2 separate regions of the Homo sapiens genome follow, and region 2 is linked to region 1. Evidence: fine-mapped expression QTL. A gene starts in region 1. The other region holds a variant in brackets. All regions are shown on one strand. Distances are from middle to middle. Region 1 holds the start of FAS (Fas cell surface death receptor). Region 2 overlaps STAMBPL1 (STAM binding protein like 1).

What was found. PIP is the estimated chance that this variant, and not a neighbour inherited with it, causes the effect. A credible set is the group of variants that fine-mapping cannot tell apart.
Region 2: its variant is the best candidate, but not a certain one, in a credible set for the expression of FAS in whole blood (INTERVAL, PIP 0.78).

What each region holds. Positions count from the first base shown.
Region 1 is chr10:88,989,756-88,992,255 of GRCh38, reverse strand. FAS (Fas cell surface death receptor) reads right to left here and starts at 1,458. Exons shown (of 9, transcript NM_000043.6): 1 at 1,350-1,458. The coding sequence starts at 1,379. FAS-AS1 (FAS antisense RNA 1) reads left to right here. Exons shown (of 1, transcript NR_028371.1): 1 at 1-834. It also overlaps a transcript of ACTA2 not described here. RefSeq lists enhancers at 523-602, 733-1,142, 1,283-1,793, 1,794-2,305.
Region 2 is chr10:88,910,843-88,913,342 of GRCh38, reverse strand. It overlaps STAMBPL1 (STAM binding protein like 1), which reads right to left. Exons shown (of 11, transcript NM_020799.4): 5 at 2,332-2,427; 6 at 1-242. Among named protein-coding and RNA genes, the nearest start is that of ACTA2-AS1, 21 kb to the left of the region's middle. The variant A/G (reference allele first, on the strand shown) is at 1,236.

The DNA.
Region 1 (2,500 bases):
ATAGTGCACACTATTTCTGAAAGGAACAGGATTTTTTTTTCTAATCATAAAATGGACCCAGACATCTCAGCCTCTTGGTGTAATCTGGATATCAGATGCAATCAGCGAACAGCCTGAGTTTTGGAATTAGATCTGAGTTCAATCCCATATCTCCCATTTACTAGCTGTGTGATCTTGGCTGAATTACTGAAGCTCTCTGAACCTCATTTCGCCATCTGTAAAATGGGGATGTGGTTATCTTCCCCACTACATGGCTCTCGTGAGAATCCGCGGAGATCACATTTGTAAACACTTCTCTCGCTATGCCTGGCACTTTGTTGGGGCCCAATAAAATAAAAATCCATGGACTCTCAGAGGCTCCGGTACTCAAATGAGCCTCCTGGATCCACGTCTCTTTGATTAGCCATCTGCAAGCTGGCATTTCTGAGCGAGGGACTTTTCAAAACAGGCTGCTCAAGTTTCTTGGCCAATAATAGGCGCCGGGTTCTGTGCGGTGGGAACGAGTACCACCAACCCCAGCAGGAGACCAAGCAGAAATCACCATGGGAGTGCAAGCTAAGAAAGGGCAAAAGAAGAAAGAGAAGGGCAGAAAAACAAAACAAAATGAAACCACTCAGGCAGCGACTTACAGTCTTAAAGAGAGAATTCCCGGAAGGGAGACAAGGCAGTTTCTTTTTCTGTGTGACAATAAAAAACGGTAAACAAGCCTCCAGAAGCTCATTCAGCCCCCATATAACTTTTTCGAGAAAGAAAAGGTGCCGTTCTTCCGAGCCCTCCGGCTTAACCACTGCTTCGGTGCTGACTTATTTCCTACGTCTGAGAACTGCCAGAAAATGAGCAATATCTGTTCTGAAGGCTGCAGGCTCTCTCCCCGCCCCCGCGGGGCGGCGCGCACTCACCCACCCGCGCCGGAGCGGACCTTTGGCTTGGCTTGTCAGGGCTTGTCCAGGAGTTCCGCTCCTCTCTCCAACCGGGGTCCCCCTCCAGCGACCCTAAAGCTTCCCAGACTTCCGCTTCAATTCCTGTCCGCACCCCACGCCCACCTCAACGTGGAGCGCAGTGGTCTCCGAGGAGCGCCGGAGCTGCCCCGCCTGCCCAGCGGGGTCAGCACTTCGCATCAAGGCCCAAGAAAAGCAAGTCCTCCAGCGTTCTGAGCACCCGGGCCTGAGGGAAGGTCCTAACAGCCCCCGGGAGCCAGTCTCCAACGCCTCCCGCAGCAGCCCGCCGCTCCCAGGTGCCCGCGTGCGCCGCTGCCGCCGCAATCCCGCACGCGTCCCGCGCCCGCCCCACTTTGCCTATCCCCGGGACTAAGACGGGGTAAGCCTCCACCCGGGCAGGAGAGGGCTCACCAGAGGTAGGAGGGTCCAGATGCCCAGCATGGTTGTTGAGCAATCCTCCGAAGTGAAAGAGCTTCCCCAACTCCGTACTGAGCGGGTCCACCAACCCGCGGGAGAAGAGGCAGCTCCGCCTGGGCAGCCAGGGCTGGCCTCAGGGTGTGTTCCGTGCCAGTGCCCGCCCCTGAGGCTCCAGCCAAGTCACTCGTAAACCGCTTCCCTCACTCCCCAGAAGCGTCTTTGAACACCTGTGTGTCACTCTTGCGCGAGATCAGAGACGAGCTCACGAAAAGCCCCGGTGGTCAGGAGGATGGGAAGGAAGCCTCGCTGGGGAACGCCCGGGTTGGGGAGGGCTCCATTGATTCAGCAACTTGGCCTGCGCGCGGGTAGGGAGGGGGAGAAGTCAGGGTGAGGAAGGAGTCAGGGTTCGTTGCACAAATGGGCATTCCTGTCCCGGGGCGTTCCTGCAGTGGCTGGCATGCTCACTTCAGGTGAGGACCTCGAGAGCCGGCCTCCTGCCCTTTCTAAAGGCTTCTGCTGTAGTTCAACCTGGGAAGTTGGGGAGGTCTTGAAGGAGAATGGAGCTCAGAGCGCAGAGGTCCTGCCTGGGTACAGGAGCCTTGGCTAATTGCTGGAGTCACTCAGAGAAAGACTTGCGGGGCATTTGACTGGGCTGTCCATGTTGTGGCTGCAACATGAGAGGCTCACAGACGTTTCTGGAATGGACAGTTAACCATATGAAAAAGTACAGATGTTGCGCCATAGGGCTCTGAAAAGGGAGGGCCCCTTAGTTTTTATTTCTCAAGAGGAAAACAAAGCTAACAACTTAAGCCAAATCGCATAGCCCCAGCTATATTAAACATTCACAATTACTTCCTGTCCTTCGTTACTCATTATTTCCTGGCCAATTTTCTTTAAAAAAAAATCTTGTAATTCTTTCGTGCTCTGGTGAACACTGTTCAAAGTCACTATTGCTTTGGAACGGTAGATAGCTCTTAGGTAGTTTAGCATGAATTTTACAGAAGGTATGTTTGGATAATGACATCATTACTGAACCTGAATTTGGATGCAGTTCCAGACTGGACACACTAAAGGTTTCAGTATTCCTTTGGCATCGTCCACCAAGCTCTGCACCTCACTCTGCAACCTCTCTCCCTTCCCAATTA
Region 2 (2,500 bases), 79 kb after region 1:
GAATTGTTCTGGTGTGTGGAAAAGCAGGACAAAGCGCTCCCATCAATCTGCTCTGACAGCCCTGAGGTTTGCTGACTTCGCATTTGACCTCGGGCTAACTCTTGCTTCTTGAGTTGATCTTCGAAAAACAGAAACTGCTCCGATTCTAGCTGCTGCTGGCGCATCTGAGCAATCCGCTTCCTTTCTGCCTCTATCAATCTCTGATGCTCCAATTTTTTGAGAATTTCAGCTTTATATTTGTTCTAAAAAGTGTGGCAGCCAGAAGAGAAGGTTAGTTTCCAAGGAGAAACATTGAACTGGAATTAGACATTTTCAGTCTTCAAGCAGACAGAGAAAATGCTAGATACTGTGATATGCCCACAGGGACACTCATGGAACAGTGAGAGAAATACATAACATCAGGGCAAAAGCCCCTTGATCTGATTAACATAGCAGTTCTAAATCCACTGATATTTTACCAGAGACAGGCCATGACAATCAGGATCCCTTCATTCCCTAATGCTTTTAAATACTGGAAAATCAACGTCAAGGTTGTTTGCTCAGTCAGACCAACAAGACCATATGAAACAAAATATCTCACCCCTACTGCACTTCTAATATAGTGGCCACTAGCCACATGTGGTTATTTGAACTTGATTAAAATTAAACAAAATTAGAAATTCAGTACCTCAGGGACACTAGTCAGTCACATTTAAGTACCCAGAAGCCACATGTGGCTAGTGGATACCATATTGGAAAGTGCCAAACAGAACACTTCCATCATCACAGGAGTTCTATTGAACAGTGCTGCCCTAGAACCTTTCGCATTTGACTCTAGAACTCATACTCTGCTGGAAATTTATGGATAAGAAGGAATCACTAAAAAATGGTTATTAAAATGTGTTCCAACCTTCTCTGTCACCACTAACCCAGAGTTTTGCTAAAAAGGAGGAGTCCCAAGCTCTCCAGTTCTAACAAAATATCCAGGCTTATTAGGTCAGATAATATGAAATATTAATGAGCCTTTCAGGTGATTTTGATAGAAACTAGATTTGGGAGCTACTGTAAGATGGCGGTAGCATGGGGGACACAGCTTATAGTGGCACATTCAGGTGCATACAAATCATCCTGGGGCTAATTGCAGTTGCAAATCCTGATTCAGCAGGTCTGGGGTGGGGCCTGAGATTCTGCGTGTCTAACAAGCTTCCAAATGATGCTAATGCTGGTGAAGCAAGGGCTCACAGGCATTGCTGTTT[A/G]TCTCTCCTAGGCTCAGTCCTGCTATTCTAAACCCACAGAGATTCCCACATGGGTCACCACTGTAGGCTATGAAGTGACTGGTATCAAAGGCAAAACATGCAACAGCTGCAGAGCCTGTTCCTCCCAGGAAGATCATGAAGAGGAAGATCATACACATTGCTGACCGTGGAAAGGAGACTTGAACTGGGCTTTCGTCTCCCTTGCTGTTGTTGCTTTGTCTTACCCTCCAAGAAAATTTCTATCTTTCATATTTCAAGTCACATTATTAATATACACACTTGAGGGACATTTCCAATTTCACCATTCCCTCTACCACTTCGTTAAAACTCTCCACTCAAGCCAGCCTTCCACCTATGCCCATAGAAAGTCAAAAAGCTCAATGAGCATTCTCAGAGATGATGAGATTGAACTGAAGTGAGAGTCAGTGAAGGTGGTAACCCCTAAAGCAAATAAAACACAAACAAAAAAGCAAAATAACATCTATAATGATGCTATGTTGAACGTGAGTATCCCATACATTCACTGGCCAATTTCTTCTTCCAATGCCTTTCTGCCTCTCAGACATTATCATAATGTTCACTCTTTATTAATAACAATCCAGAAGCCACCACTTTTGGGTGATATGATTACATTTCAACCACAAGGTTAGCTGTTATTCTATCTCAATGCAATACTGACTGTAACATTCTAAGAATCAAATTCACATTTCTAAGGCCTACATCATTAGGCACATCAGAAACCATATACTGCTCTCCCTACCTCCTACTGGCTGTTCATCTGGCAAAAGAGCAGCCATCTGGCTCAAGGTTATCTGGCTCAAGAGTTAATCAAAAAGTTCTACTTAAATCGCTGCAGGAAATCTGTTTTCTAACACATTGCTTTGTTAGATATTGTAGGGAAATAGAAATACCACATTGTTGGTGAAACTGCTTAACCTGGATATCAGCATAAATTTTTTATTGGTTCCATATCACTGCATCTTTAATTTTTAATTTAAATGCACAAAACATTTGAAAAACTCATCACATAAAAATGAAATTCAAAAAATACTTGTACATAAAATAGTCATGAAATAAATGTACCAACTGAACTTACTTTGCTTTGCAAATATTCTTGGTATTCTACGTTATATTTCTTTAAAAGGTCGTTTTTCAATTCATCTGTCCTTGGGAATGCAATCTCCTTCAGTTTCTTTTAAAAATATATATACATATTGATTAGTGGGATTTTCAATACACTCTTTCAGATCATCAGGTGAGAAAGA